Linked DNA regions of Homo sapiens: region 1 is linked to region 2. Evidence: fine-mapped expression QTL. Tissue or cell type: sigmoid colon. Region 2 holds a variant in brackets; the other region holds the start of a gene. All regions are shown on one strand. Distances are from middle to middle.

Region 1 (8,104 bases), 80 kb before region 2:
GACCCCATCTCTACAAAAAATACAAAAATTAGCCTGGCATGATGGTGTGCACCTCTGGTCTCCCAAAGCGCTGGGATTACAGGTGTGAGCCACCACGCCCAGCCGAAAAAACAGAAGAATTTTTAAGCCTTCTAATATTTGGATATAGTTTTCCATGTTCCCATAGTTTATTTTATAGACCTGATGGTTTAGAAGCATTTCACTTTCCGCTTTGCTAGCCACGTGGTTATACTTTAATTTTAAGTGCATTTGTGTGCTTTTCCTGAAGCATTTTCACCTAGGCCATCTCACTTAGTTTGAACAAGAGCAGTGCTTCGCACGCGGCTGCTTGCTGAGCAGAGTCCAGCGAACCGAATTGGGCAATATGAGACTGAATCTTTCCATTCCAGGGCCTTCAGATCCCAGCTGTCAACAGCCTGCTGTGTGACGTCACTGAAAGCCTCTGTGCTCTAGTTTCCTCACTGATAAAGGAGGGATACTAATGGTACCCGCTTTCTGGTGCTGTGAGAGTTAAGAGACAATAGACAGAAATGTCAAACATGCAGAACTGTGCCTGGCACACGAGTGCTTGGTAAATGTCAGCTATTCATAACAGAGGAAAAAACCTGATGAAAATAAATCACTTTTGGATAAGGATTTTAATATTCTTACAGACACTCCCCATCCAGCTCTTAGCTCAATGGATCAGGTTATCTGCAAGGACAGCAGCCTCTTGCTGGGTGCCCCATGGAGACAGCGATCTTCCCTCCTCTCTTACCTTCTCAAGGGTGGCCCTTTTCCATCACCAAGGCTGCACTCATGCAGAGAGGAAGCCTTCCCCCCCGACCTGATCAGGCTGATTAACTTCAACTCCCAGGGGAGAAGACTCTTGAGAACACACTTTAACCTTGGGTTCTCACCTGGAGCTCCGCATGATTTTCCATTTCCTTAACTAATGAATGCATCTAGCAGACTCAGTCCATAAAAAAGGCACATTTGAATGATAACAGCCAGAGCCCGGTGGCCGAGCTGGGCTGCCGCCTGCTGAGCAGCTCCTTTAGAAAGGCCTGCACTTGAGCGTTAGTTACCCTGTGGAGGGACAGGAGGCCGGCTGCTTCACTTCCCTCTGCTGGGAGTGGCCCTGCGTGATGGGGTGCATATCCACTTCATTTATTTTTTAATCTGTGGGAGACAGGTTATCAATTTACTTAAAGTTTGAATGTCTGTAAGGATGAAATTTAAAGCTAGGGCTCTGAAGATCTCTAGCAGGGATGTATCTGTCATCTACCTATCCCTCCATCTCAGCCTGTGAACTGCGTGTCATCATGGGTTAAATTAATTACTAAGAGACCACGGAGTCCATTTTATAGCTCAAATGAGCATTTTTCATTTCCTGTAGTAAACATGACTTAAGTAAACAAAGAGTTTCTCTAACAAGGATGGCTTACAAGTAGAAGTGGCTAAATTTTCACTTTTATAAATTTTGCTGCTTTTTATTAACTATCAATAAACCTAGAAAGATGATCTTACAAGTAAACAACAGATTTTGCATACTTTAACCTTAAAGATATCTCTGCCTCAACTCTTTGTTCACAGCTCTCTGACACTGGAATATTAATAGTTGATAATCTTTCCCTTTAATTTTTCACTGATAATATTAGTTCCTAACCCAGGTTTTTGGATCTCACAAGGGTTCTTATTATACAGTTGTCACATACATTTCTTTAAGAAGTTCAACCTAAGAAGAAATCAAGAATTGTCTTTTCTGGTTCATACATTAACTCCTATAGGGTTGTCCACTACTAAAGCAACAGAAAGTGCTGCCTTCTTTTTCTGGAAGCTGCTGTTCTTACAAGAGAGCAATTTAGGAGCAGGAATTGTGCTTTATTAACATCAAAGCACTGGCACAGGAAGTTTGCACACTCAGCTCTGGGAGCTTTTTGATGCTTTCTGCCTGCTTTGGGAAATTAGCTCTTTGTTTCATTATCAGTTATCTGGATGGAAACTGAAGGGAAAAATATTGATTTTTTTTTTTTTTTTTAATAAATTGTACCAGGATGCTGGGTCTGCGGCCCTAGTGGCTGGTCTTTCCTGTGCTTGGGATGTTGGCCTTGTAGAGTTACTTCTGTAATCTCAAGACAGAAACTGACAGCTTTGTTTGATCAAAATTGTTACTTCACCTTGCACATTTTCAAGAGTTCTACAGGTTTAATGAGCACAGAAATCTGGGGGAACTTTCACTCTCCAGGGCTCCTTCATAGAGGTTCTCAAATACTCCATCAGCAGAGGGGAGCCCCAGATGGCAAAAGGACACAGGATATGTCATCTTTCAAATGAACCAATAATCCATTATTTGATTCTTCTACCTTTGTCAAAATTCCTCCAGCAACGCCTGCAGAAAATCACAATTCTTGATACATAGCTTGTTCCAATAAAGCACCACAGCATTTCTAGTGACTGCAGGCCCAGCTGTCAAACTCTTTCAACTTGATAGAGAATATGTACACAAAACCTATAGCTGTCATCATACTTAATAGTGAAAAACAGAATGTTTTCCAGCTGACACTGGGGACAAGGTAACAGTGTCAGTTCCTGCCGCTCTTATTCAACACAGAAATTTTAGTCATCATACTAAGACACACAAAAAAAGGAATAAAAAGCCACGCAGACTGGAAAGGTAGAAATAAAACTCTCCATATTTGCAGATGACATGATTATCTACATGGAAAATGCCAAGTAATACACAAATAACCTCTTAAAATTAATAGGTGAGTTTGCCAAGGTCACAGGATATGAGATCAACATGAGAAACACAATCACATTTCTGTATGCTAACAACAAACATGTAAAAACTGAAATAAAAATAATAACAGTTTAAATCTCTTGAGAGCAAAGGAAATATTTAAGTATAAACCTAACAAAACGTGATAGGATCTGATGTTGAAAAAATCACACAATTCTGATGAAAGAAGTGAAAAAAAAAAAACTATTTAAATAGACAGACATACCATGTTCGTGGGTTGGAAGATTCAACATAATAAGGATACAATTCTCAATTTGATCCATAGGTTGATTGCAATTCCTCTCGAAATACCAACATGGCTTTTTGTAGAAACAGACAAGTTTATTCTAAATTTTATGTGGGAAGGCACAAGCCCTAGAATACTTTAAACTTGACAAAGAAGAATAAAGTGTGTGGCTGTAAAACCAAACTGTAAAAAATTAACAGTTCATTGCTTGCAGTCGAAAAAATGAGGAAAAGATGGACGATCTAGGAAACTTTCAGGGAGCTAAGGTGTCGGAGAGCAAAGTATCCTTGTAAGGAATGAGACAAGATAAACTCCCTCCCCCACACACAGTATTTTCAGAGAACTACATTCTTGGTTTCAACCTGATGTCATAGGCTGTGTTCTTTGCAACGGAAGAAGCAAAGACTTCAAAGGGAGAAATCGGAAGATTTCTTTTTTCATCGTAGGGACTTCACATCAGCGTTTCCAAAACCGAGTCCATCGCCTTTTCCCTCTGCGCAGCCTCTATCCCTTCCTGTGTTTCGCATCTCAATAAACGTCCCCGCCAAGTGACTTCAGCCTGAAACATGCGGCCTCCCGGACTCCTCTCTGTGTCACCGACCTCTTGCGCTCAGTTCTCCGGAGCTGCCGGTTTAACCTCGCAAGTCTTCCCGGAACCCGTGCCCTCCTCCTGGGCAGCGTTACCACCACGAGCGCCTACCTGAGAGGACGCCTGTTCTCATCCAGCCTCCACCCTGCAGCCGAGCAATCTCCGTAAAACGAACACCTGGCTTAGTTTCTGCTGGAAACCGTTGAATAGTCCCCACTGTCTTCTGGAAGGGTCTGGGCAGCTCGGCGTGGCGTCCACGGCCCCACCAGGCCTCTGCCTCCTGCAGGTCCCGCTACTTCGTCACCAAAGCGCCCGCCGCGCTCGCATCTGCTGTGAGGCTGTGCTCGGGCCGCTCCCGCCGAGGGAACGGCCCTCCCAAGGCTCTGCGCCCCAATTCTCGCTCGTTTGCCAAGAGGTAGCCGTGTCGGGGAGCTAGAGTTCTCCGGGGACTCTCTCCTGCCCCTCGTGGCCCTCTGTGGAACCCTCGTTTTAGGATCTGCACGCCGTTTCCAGTCGCGCGCGCGGCACGGAGACCGCCCGCTGTGCCCCGCGCTGCGCTCTCTCCGCCCCTCTCCCGCGCAGGCCTCCCTGTGCCAGCCGGCTGTCGACCCAGGTTAGGAAGCCCGAGGTCGGGGCGTTACCCCAAGGGCCCTCCCGCTTCCCCTCCGAGGGCAGAGAGGCGTCCGCGCCCGGACGCACTGCGGGAACACCTGGAGCGCCGGCGGAGCTCGGCTGTCCCCGCGGGAGGGAGCCCGACGCGCATCCTTGGGACCCGGACCCGGCGCCCGCGCCTCGGGACGGATTTCTGCCTCGGCTGCAGGCGCAGCGCGCAGACCTGAGCCTGCCCCGCGGAACCGGGGCTCGAGTCCCGGCCCGAGCGCGGCGTCGGGGCCAGCGGAGAGGGGCGGAAGCCGCAAGGGACCCTCGGCGCCTCGGCCTGGCCGCGATGAAGTCCCCGCCCCTCCTCAGGTGACGGATCGCCGCTGCCGTCCCGGGCTGCCCACCACCCCGGCGCGTGCCCGGGAGCCTCCACCCTCCCCGGGTTCTGTGGCCGGCCACGCGCCCCAGGCACGCGCCGCGCCGGGCCGCGCCACCAAGCCCGCTGTCCCCAGCTTTCCTCGGCAGATCCCCTGGCTACCCCCACCCTGCGGAGGGGCCGTTCACCAGATGCCAGAAAATCAGGGTGGGGCACGCAGGCCAGGGGCTCCAGCGGCTGGGCACCGTGTCCTTCCCGAACCTGGTGCTGGAAGTGCGCCCGCCTCCGCCTCTCCCAGGCACCCACCGGCACTGCCCAGCCCTGTCTGGAGGGTCTAGGACTGAACGTCTGTCCCCGGCCTTCATCCTGGCTGCAGAGGACTGGCCGGGTGATGCCGCGCTGTCCTGGCCCTGGGCCCGCCTGGAAGACCCGCCTGTGTCGCGGGCCCCCTCCCTGGCTCTGGCCTCTAAAGCGCCCCCGGCACAGCTTCCCGGCCCTTGCAGCCCGGTGGGGCCGGAACCTTCCCCTTGTCACTGTTGTCCTTTCTCCTTTCAGCCCGTGTCTCTCCTGGAAGAGAATGGCGGGCATCTTTTTCCTGCCATTTATCTCATCAGGTTTTGCTCCTCGGTTTAAGCAGGAAGAGAACTTCATGCTTGGAAGAGCGCATCCGTCCCAGCCTAGGTTTGCTTGAGAGCTACATCCCTGGGGAGGGAGGGGAGCGATCTCTCCTTTCTTGGAGAAAATAGTATCGCGAATATGCACAGAACACGTCCTACTAACATATGCACAGAACACGTCCTACTAACATATGCACAGAACACGTCCTACTAACAAAAACTTCTTTTCGCTAGGGTTTCAGCCGTGCCTCCGAGCCCTCTCCCGAATCCTCTCTCCCTTTCCACTTTCTTTCCCTCGCCCGCCCCCTCCAGGTTTAATTGGTCTCATCTGACCCCTCTGGAGCTGAAGAATCGATCTGTGGGACTTGGAACTGAAAGCACAGGTCGGGGTAAGCCCCACTTCACACTGGAGGGCCACAAGTTCCTGATCTTCGGGGGCTCCATCCACTATTTCCGGGTGCCCAGGGAGTACTGGAGGGACCGCCTGCTGAAGCTGAAGGCCTGTGGCTTCAATACTGTCACCACGTGAGTGCCGGCCCCTCACCTCCAGGATCTCGTTACCCTACAAGTGCATCCTGGCCGGGAACCTGAGCCTCCGATTTTGGGGGCCCAGCGTGAGGACTTACCTTCCGCACAGTCGTTTCCAGCACATACATTTAATGCTTAAGCGTCCAGCTGTCACTTAGTCTCATGCTGAGTTTGCTCTGTGATCAAAGACTTGGATAGGGGTTAGTGGGAGAATCTCAAGGGAGGAGGTTATTTCCTCAGGATTCTGTCTGTCTAATGAAGGAACACCAGGCGCCCTTGGGAGCACTCAGTTTAATGACATAAGCTTAAGGCACACTTACAGATAAATATGTACTTACAGATACATGCATGTTTTTAAAACAAAAAAAAATTTTTTTTTTTGAGACACAGTTTGTTGTTCTGTTTGTTGCTCAGGCTGGAGTGCAGTGGCCCGATCTTAGCTCACGGCAGCTTCTACTTCTCTGGCTCAGGTGATCCTCCTGCCTCAGCCTCCTGAACAGCTGGGGCCACAGGTGCATGCCACCACACCAGGCTAATTTTTTGAATTGTTTGTAGAGATGGAGTTTCGCCATGTTGCCTGGGCTGGTCTCAAACTCCTGGACTCAAGCAGTTCACCCTTTAAAAGGGAACACCACGGTCGTCCTCATGCCTGTATACAACTGACCAGCCACCCTGTATGACCACAAAAAAGCAAAACTGCTCCAGAATCAGAGGCCCTGTCCTCCTGAGGGCCTGCCACCACCATTTTGTGGCAAGCTTACCATCACACTCACTGTAAAGGAGAAGATGCTTAGAGGGCCCTGTGCCTTATTGCAGAGCTGGTATTGAAGGGTGAATTTGAAGCTGAGAGGCAGTAAACTGGTTCATTTAAAATGCAAAGAATTTAATCAGAAATAATCGTTGAGTTTTATTGAGAGCTGCTACTGCATGTATTGGGGGGACAATATAGTTTTTCTTCACTGTTCTTTTGAATTGCTGAATTACAACGGCAATTTTTCTGATAGTCAAGCAGCCATGTGGTACTGGTATAAACTCTGCTTGGCTCTGAGATAGGCACACATTACATACACACAGATTGCTAGACTTTATTTGCTAGTGTTTTATTTCAAATGTGTTTATGATTATAAGCAAAACGGATTTAAAATTTTATTTTGTTAGTATTCTTGTCCAGTTTTGAATCAATCTTATAATAAGCTCATAAAGTGAGTAAATCTTCTTTTCTTACTTATTGGAAATATTTTGCACAAGAATTATCTTTACCCTGAAAGTTTCTTAAGATTCACCTGTAAACTCTGTGACTACTATCTTTTGTGGTTTGTGAGGTGAAGGGTTTGGGGACGACATAGCTCTTTGAATGGTTATTAACTCATGTCCTCTATTTCTTCTTGAATACATCCTGCTCTCCCCCTTTTTTTCTTTCCTTTCTTTTTTCTTTCTGTTTTCTTTTTCTTTTTTTTTTTTTTTTTTTTGAGATAGAGTCTTGCTCTGTTGCCCAGGCTGGAGTGCAGTGGCGCGATCTCTGCTCACTGCAACCTCCCCCTCCTGGGTTCAAGTGATTCTCCTGCCTCACCCTCCTGAGTAGCTGGGATTATGGCTCCCGCCACCACACCCGGCTAATTTTTGTATTTTTAGTAGAGATGGGGTTTCACCATATCGGTCAGGCTGGTCTCAAACTCCTGACCTCAGGTGATCCGCCTGCCTCGGCCTCCCAAAGTGCTGGGATTACAGATGTGAGCCACCTCGCCCAGCCTTCTTTCTTCTTTTGAACCCACTGGGACTTAAGAAATTTTTCCTTTCTTTCCTGTACTCACTTGGAAGTTATATACATCACGTTGTGTATTTTGGCTGTTTTTTTCTTTTTTCTTAATCTTATCTATTTAGTCTTTTCAGATAACTAGCTTGTAGCTTTGTTAGTACTCTCTGTATATTTCGGATCTGTATTTCACAGTTTCTGAGTTATGTGTAATTTCCTTTTCTCTACTTTATTAAATATAGTACCTTCTCTTCTCTGTCCTTCTCAGTTTCCTCCTCCTCCTTCTTCTTTTTCCCTGAGTTAAAATTTAGCTTCTTTTACTTCCAGTCTTTTGTGTTTTCTAATATATTCCTTCAAAGATATGAATGTTTCTCTGAGTGTTGCTTTGGTTATATAGCCCACAAATTTTGCTATATAGTGCTTTGAATGTCATTTATTTTCAAATATTTCCTAAGTTTTGATGTTGTTTCTATTAGCTATTTGGGAATACGCTTTCTGTTTTATTTATTTATTTATTTATTTAAATTTTACTATTTAACTGTGATTTTTAAATTTGTTTGCATTTATCTTGGGATCATGGACTATGTGATATAGGTTTTTGGAATTTGTTGAGATTTACTTCGTGACATAGTA
Region 2 (8,104 bases):
GTGAAAAGAGTTTATTACTGTATTCTACCTTATAGAATAAGGTAGGAAGTGTTCCTTCCCTTTCAATTTTTGGGAAGGGTTTGAGGAAGACTGGCGTTAATTTTTCTTTAAATATTTGGTAGAATTTACCAGTGAAGCCATCTGGTCCTGGACTTTTCTTTGTTGGGAGGTTTTTAGTTACTGATTCAGTGTCCTTACTAGTTATAGGTCTGTTCAGATTTTATATTTCTTCATGATTTAGTTTTGGCATATTATATATTTCTAGGAATTTGTGTGTTTCATCTAGGTTATTTAATATTTAATTTGTTGGCGTACAATTTGTTCATATTCCTCTTCTGTAATCGTTTTTATTTCTGTAAAATCAGCAGTAATAGCCTCATGTTGTTTCTGATTTTAGTTGAGTCATATCTTTTTTCTTAGTTTAGCTGCAGTTTGTCAGTTTTGTTGATCTTTTCAAATAACCAACTCTTGGTTTCATTAATTTTTCTTTATTGTTTTTCTATTCTCTCATTGTCTATCTCTGCTCTAATCTTTATTATTTCCTTACTTCTGCTACCTTTTAGTTTGTTTCCCTTTTTCTGGTTTCTTAAGGTATAAAGTTAAGTTGTTGGTTTGAGACCTTTTGTCTTTTAAATGTATTTATAGCTATAAAATTTCCCTCTTTGCACTGCTTTCACTGTAATTCATAATTTTATTTCCATTTTCATTTTTCTCAATATGTCTTCTTTTTTTTTTTTTTTGAGATGGAGTCTCGCTCTTGTCGCCCAGGCAGGAGTGCAGTGGCATGATCTCAGCTCACTACAACGTCCGCCTCCCAGGTTCAAGTGATTCTCATTACTCACCCTCCCAAGTAGCTGGGATTACAGGTGCCCGTGACCACGCCCGGCTGATATTTGTATTTTTAGTAGAGACGGGGTTTCCCCTTGTTGGCCGGGCTGGTCTTGAACTCCCTATCTCAGGTGATCCGCCCGCCTTGGCCTCCCAAAGTGCTGGGATTACAGGCGTGAGCCACTGCGCCTGGCCTCAATATATTTTCTAATGTCTCTTGTGATTTCCTCTTTGGACTATTGGTGAAGATTTTATTTCCACATACTTGAATTTTTCAGGACTTTTTTGGTTATTGATTTCTAGTTTCATTCCATTGTGATTGGGAAAAATAAAACTTTGTAAGATTTCAATTTTTTAAATTTATTAAAGCTTGAGGCTGGGTGTGGTGGCTCATGCCTGTAATCCTAGCACTTTGGGAGGCCGAGGCAAGTGGAACACTTGAGGTCGGGAGTTAGAGACCAGCTTGGCCAACATGTTGAAACCCATTCTCTACTAAAAAATACAAAAATTAGCCAGGTGTGGTGACGGGCACCTGTAATCCCAGCTACTTGGGAGGCTGAGGCACAAGAATCACTTGAACCTGGGAGATGGAGGTTGCAGTGAGCCAAGATTGTGCCACTGCACTCCAGCCTGGGTGACAGAGCAAGACTCTGTTTTTTTTTAAAAAAGAAAAATTTATTAAGGCTTGTTTTTTTGGCTTACTATATGGTTTATCCTGGAGAGTGTTTTATGTGCCCATGAGAAAAATGTGTATTGTGCTACTTTTGGGTGGAATGTTGTGTATATATATGTTTGGTCCAACTGGTCCATAATATTGTCTAGGTCCTCTATTTGGTTACTAATTTTCTGTCTGGTTACTCTATCCATTATTGATATTCAGATATTGAGTCTCCTACTATTATTGTCTATTTTTCCCTTTAATTTTGCCACTGTTTGGCTCATATACTTTGGAATTCTGGCATTTGGTGCATATATGTTTATAATTGTTATATCCTTTTGGTGAATTGACCCTTTTATCATTATATATATTTTATCATGTCTTTGTCTCTTGTAACAGTTTTTGATATAAAGTCTATTTTGTTTGATATTAGCAAAGCCACCCCTCCTCTTTTGATTACTGTTTGCATAAAATATCTTTTTCCAGCCTTTCACTTCCAACCAATAAATATCCTTAGATCTGAAGTGAGTGTCTTGTAGATAGTATATAGTTGGATATCGGTTTGTTAAAAATCCATTCTGCCAATGTATGTCTTTTGATTGGGGAGTTTAATGTGTTTACATTCAAAGTAATTACTGATAGAGAATCACTTGCTTTTGCCATTTTGTTGCTTTCTGTATGTCTTACAGCTTTTTGTCCCTCATTTCCTTTATGACTGCTTTACTTTGTATCTAGTTGATTTTTTTATAGTGACACTTTTTTATAACGATTCCCTTTACCTTGGGATAAGGTAAAGGATATATAATATCCTAAAGTTGTGACATTCTGTTTTAAATTGATACCAACCTAACTTCAACTGCACACAAAAACTCCTTTACAGTTCTGCCCTTCCACTTTATTTTATTGATGTCACAAATTATGTCTTCATATTGGGTGTACCCATTAACTTAAATTTATAATTATTTTATGTCTTTTAAAATCTTGTAGAAAATAAAAAGCCACATTGTAAAGAAAAATTATAATAATATTTTTATATTTTTTATGTGTCTATCTTTGCTGGAGAACTTTATATTTTCATATAGCTTCAAATTACTCTCTAGCATTTTTTCATTTCAACTTTAGGTGTTTTTTTTCTAGGGAAGGTCTAGTGGTAATGAACTCTCTTAGCTTTACTTTGGGAATTTCTTAATTTTTCCCTCATTTTTGAGTTTTGCTGGATATAGAAGTGTCAAAAAAAAAGTTGACACTTTTTCCTTTCAGCACTTTGACTATATCATCTCATTGCCTTCTGGCCTGAAAATTTTCTGGCTGAGATATCCTTTATAGTCTTATTGAGGATCCCTTGCCTGTGACCAAAACTTTTTCTGGCATTCAAGAATCTCTCTTTGTCTTCAATGGTTTGATTATAGAGTGTCCCTGAGTGGTTCTCTGGAATTTTTTGAGCTCCTTAGATTTATATAATCTTGTCTTTCCTCAAATTGGAGAAGTTTTCAGCTATTATTTTGTAAAAATAATCTCCCTGCCCTTTTATCTCTCTTTTTCTTCTAAGAAACCCATAATTCATATATTATTCTGCTTGAAGATGTTGTGTAAGCCCCTTAGGCTCTGTTCACTTTTCTTTATTCTTTTATCTCCTCAGACCTGATCATTTCTGATAACCTGTGTTTAAGTTTGCTTTTCTTTCTTCTACCTGTTTGAATCTGCCGTTGAACTCCTCTAGTGAATTTTTCAATTTATATATGGTATATTTCAGCCCCAGAAGTTCCTTTGGTTCTTTTAAAAATAATCTCTGTTTCTTTGTTGATATTCTCTTTTTCTTCATATATCATTTGCCTGGTTTCCTTTAGCTCCTTGAGCATATTTACGACAGCTGTTATAGATCTTGCTCTACTGAGTCTGGTGTGTGTGTTTCTTCAGATACTGCTTTTGGAGATTTATTTTGTTCCTTTGATGAGTCATACTTCCCTGTTTCTTTTTATGTTTGTGTTTTTTTGGTTGAACATTGGGCTTTTGAAAAAACAAACACCTATTTCAGTTTTTGCATGTTTTCAGGGGAACCCTCACTAATTAGTGGGCCCCTAAGCCCGGAGATCAGCCCAACATGAAGACTTAAGAGCTGATATTTTCTGGGCATGTGTTCTGTCTGTATCTGTGTGTGTGCTTCCCTCCCTACCTCCCCTCCCTGGTCGCTTTCAAGGGTCTTTAATTCCCAGAGTCTCACCCCAGCTTCTTCTTGTGGCCTTAGATGCTTTTCATTTTCTTTTGCTGTAATTCTTTTCCCCCAGGCATCCAAGGCTTTATAGTCCTCTGGCAGCTTTCATATGCTGCCATCTTTAGCTTCCAGCCTGAAGTCCAAACTATGTTGACGATTCCTGTTTGAGCTCCAT[G/A]TCAGACAAGACAGAAACCAGTACGTTGGGCAGAACAAGTTAGAACATCGTGAACAAGTTAGAACATTGTAAACAAGTTAGAACATTATCAACAAGTTCCATTTTGCTTCTTCCCCATGAGGGAGCGGGGAGTTGGGACGCATCCTCCTGACCACACCATGCTACATTGGGGTGGGGCAAGAACTTGTGAAAACATCATACAATTTTGTACCATTTTGCATATGACTTTTTGTTTTGATTTGGTGGTCACTTGTTTGGTTAGACACTTAAATGGTTTCCAGAGCTCCTATTAAGTTATTTTAGTCAGTCTGGAGTTGTTTTCTTGATGTTTTCATGGGAGAACAAGGGCCTAGTGCTTCTTCCACTGTCTTATTGATACTAATCTTTTGAGATTTTAGTTTTCAATGGGATCTTTTGCTAGTCACTGGTGATGGGCGTGGCAGGGTTGGATACTACAGTTCCCCTGCACACTCAGCTCCTGGTTTTCTGTCTTTTCTCCGCAGTACAAGCGTGGGGGACCTATCATTGCCGTGCAGGTGGAGAATGAATATGGTTCCTATAATAAAGACCCCGCATACATGCCCTACGTCAAGAAGGTAAGAATCCTCTTAGTGCGTTTCTTTAGATTCCTTCCTCTGGAGTGTGCTATAGGCTGTGGTGTGACATGTGGGTCTAATATTTTTCTCATATTAATACATCCTCCAACATCATGTATTAGTGAATTTTCTCTGTTGTTTTATTTCAACAGGGTTGTCACTTATTTACCCTTGATTGAGTTTCATCTGGGAATTTCAGTACACACCTGGTATTGCAGGGGCTGGGAATAAAGGAATTGGCTTAATTGCGTGGTGATGATTAGGAAGGCTTCCTGGAGAGGCGGCTCCAATTCTAAAGTCTAAAGCAGTGGTTCCCAGCCCAGGCTGCACACTGGCTCTATCTGGGGAGTTTTAAGAAATCCCTGCGCCCAGGCCATGTACCATACCAAGCAAAGAAGAATCCTTGGGGTTCTCAGACATCTGGTTTCAGTGTGTAGGGAAGGCTGAGAGCCACTGACTCAATGCATGACTGACCAGCGAAGGGCAGAGCCACACTTAAAATAACAGGCTACATTCAGATCTGCTTTCTGTCCCTTAGTAGCTGAGACCTTGAACAAATGCCTCGAGTTTTTTCTAAACCTCCTTTCTCTCTTCTATAAAGTGTGACTAATAGGAGTATTTACCTTTCCAAATTGTGAGTATGATGTGATATCCCGCAGCTCAGTACTGTTCTAGTAAGTCGTCAATAAATAAGACCTTGATGGAATCATTGGCATTTGCTGTGGAGTACCTTGGAGGTTCGGCCATGGTGTGAGCTGAGGAAGTGTAAGTGGCCGCAGTGACTCCACCTACCTGAAGGCCGGACGGCTTTGGGCCTTGATGCCTGGGCAGCATCCCTTCTGCTACGACGTGCAGAGCATTTTCCGTCTGGAAATTAATTCAGTCCCTCCACGTGGGAGACCGAGGCTCAGTCCCTTCAACTTGTGGGTTCATGCGTACTCTTCCCCCTTCTCACCTGCAGAAAGCCCTCTTAGGAGGAAGCAAGGCCGTGTCCAGGAAGGGTGGCATTCCTCAAGCTGGAAAGGGGCAAGGTCCATTCTGATGGCCATGCCCAGCCACGGCCTGGAGTAGGGCACTCCTTCAGCTTCCTACAGAAAGATCCCATCCCAGCACAGGACTTGAAGCGTCTCCTGCGATACCCCATTCCCGCAGACTGTCTCTTGGCCCTGGGGCCTCTCAGCGGTTGTTGACTCAGTTACTCAGCTGCAGAGAAGGAGAGCCCCACGAGAGGAGAGTGCAGCTCCCTCAGGGACGTCCTGCTCCACTCATGCTTCCCTGGTGTCGGGGCGGAGGCGCCCATGTGTGACTCAGGTGGGCAAAGAGAAGCAGCAGCGTCCAGCCTCTGTGGTCCGGAAGCTCTTGGGAGAATTCACCAGCCTCTCTCTGAGGCTGCTGGGAGAGTGGTGTGAGAGAACAGGTGCCTGCTCCCAGCCTAGCTCTGCAGATCTCTGGTGCTCAGGCGGGAGCAATTATCCCCTCTGGGGTGGAGTCGGTAAATGAATGCCCAGGAAATGTTAAGTGTGTGTGTATGTGGTAGGGACCTAAGTAAATGCTTGCTAAATATCAGTGAATGATAGTGTGAGGTGGTAGATACAGGACTCTTGATTAATCCCACCTGGGCTCATGGATTGAACTCTGCAGCTCTCCTGTGCCTGAGACCAGAGCCCCCTCTGCTCTTTCCTTCCCCGCGTGTGGGACTGGACACGAGCCTTATTCGCCCAGCAGATGATCTCGCTGTCTATCCACTTCCAAAAGATTTCAGCGGAAATAAACAGTCTTGGCATAATATCTGCAGGGAAGATTACGAGAAGACACCTCTGTTGGGATTTTTGATCCAAAAGATCCTAGCACCTCAGCACAGAGCCTTTGGCTCTGGGTTCAGGCCCACGTTGCCATGGGCCCTGTAACCTGCGATGCTTGACTTCACGCCTCCGAGGCGCGTCTCTACTGTGAAGACAGCAACTGCAAGGCTCGCGTAGGACAGTCTGTGTATGAGCGGAGGGCCTGGCGTGGCAGTGACTGCTCTGCGGATGTCAGGGGACGCTCTGAGTGGTGATTGTCGTCACTGCCCCTCAAGCACAGCGTTTCTTCCACTTCACTCTCTGCTTTACAGCTGGGAGGATGCTTCCTGCTGTTCTGGGCATGGGCAGTGCACCGTGGGCACGTGACAGGGCATGGTGGGCCCTCCTGGGCCTTGCCATCCCCCAAACCCACACCGGCCAGCGTGGGGAAGGGACAGGCCTGTTGCTTGTGCTGTGAGAGAAGGGAAGGATGTAGGTGTCGTCCTGGAGGCCTGACCTACTCGCTGGAGCCCAGCAGACAGTGGCGGGTGACACGCGGCAGCAGGCTTCCCTGAGCTGGCCTCAGTGTAGACTCGCCTAGGCATGCTAGCTGGCCCACCGGGCACCTTCCAGATCCGGAGCAACCAGGGGCTGCCCTAGTTTGCCAGCCCTGCCCCTGCTGTGATGGGAATTCATGCTGATTGGAGCTGTGCTGAGCATGGCCGGTGCAGATGGCAGGAGACTTTTCTGTTTTTGGCAGAGAAATAAACGCTTTATTTGTCATCTCTCCTTCTAGCTCTTCAGGCTACCCAACTGCAGCTGTGTGTCACTGCAGAAGCTCTAAGGAGCCAGGGCAGACGAGGGCTTGTCTCATTTCCCCCACAGGCACTGGAGGACCGTGGCATTGTGGAACTGCTCCTGACTTCAGACAACAAGGATGGGCTGAGCAAGGGGATTGTCCAGGGAGGTAACTGCACTTGTGTTGGGCCGTGGGGGCTGGCGGCGGCCCTGGGCTGGCTGTGCACGCTCCCGCTGTGGGACTGCGACCCAAGTAGGAGTTTCTCTGGTGCCTGTTATTCTCCCGTGCATATGGCACTGGGCTGCAGACACCCTTGGGTTCCATGAGTGGGGAGGGTCTGTGTGAGAGATTGTGGTGCGTGGCTGGCTGGGTGGCTGTTCTCCTGCCCTGCTGGGCACTCGGGCTCCAAGGGCACTCTGCAGATGACTGCTTCACGTGCGGGCTTCCTGTTTTCAGAACATCGCAGCTCCGTTCTTCCCAGCTGCATGGGCCCCGAACCTGGTAGTGACTGTGAGCTCCTCTCCATTCCGCCTGGCACCTAAGCCATTGTTTGCTTTATCTCCCAGTGCTCCTGGAATCCCTACAGGCCTAAGCAGTTGCCTGCTAGCAGCACCCCTGGCCTGCATTGCTGCAGTAGCATTTTCACTGTTGACTCCATAATGTGTTCTCAGCATATCAGCCTCCGTGTGCCTCTGAAAATGTCGTCCAGATTACCCTATCCTGCTGAACGCCAGGCATCTCTGTCACACTCAGAGTGAAGCGCAGGTTCTGGGAATGACCTCGAAAGGCCTCTCCACTTGGCCTCCAGGACCTAGCTGAGCTCACCTCCTGCTCCTTCCCTTTGCTCACACCGTTTCACCCTCTTTACTGTTCCTCCAACATCCAGATCCCCAGCCTGGGGGGCTTTGCTCTTCTTCCAGAGAGCTACATGGCTGTTCTCCGAAGTTAGCGAGGCTTTCTGTAGCACCACACTTGAAATTGAACTTCTTCCTTCGTGGGGCTCACTCAATCCTTCTCCCTGCTTTCTTTTCGCCCTCTCACCTTCCAGGTAGTTT

The links. PIP is the estimated chance that this variant, and not a neighbour inherited with it, causes the effect.
Region 1: GLB1L3 starts here. The variant in region 2 is fine-mapped to the expression of GLB1L3 in sigmoid colon (GTEx, PIP above 0.99). The same link has a PIP of 0.9 or more in uterus and vagina.

The regions. Positions count from the first base shown.
Region 1 is chr11:134,272,198-134,280,301 of GRCh38, forward strand. GLB1L3 (galactosidase beta 1 like 3) reads left to right here and starts at 4,182. Exons shown (of 20, transcript NM_001080407.3): 1 at 4,182-4,566; 2 at 5,129-5,254; 3 at 5,503-5,715. The coding sequence starts at 4,544. RefSeq lists enhancers at 645-1,200, 3,341-3,450, 3,511-3,640, 3,791-3,840 and a silencer at 4,291-4,360.
Region 2 is chr11:134,351,925-134,360,028 of GRCh38, forward strand. GLB1L2 (galactosidase beta 1 like 2) reads left to right here. Exons shown (of 19, transcript NM_001370461.1): 6 at 4,377-4,469; 7 at 7,136-7,217. Among named protein-coding and RNA genes, the nearest start is that of GLB1L2, 24 kb to the left of the region's middle. RefSeq lists an enhancer at 6,793-7,316. The variant G/A (reference allele first, on the strand shown) is at 3,874.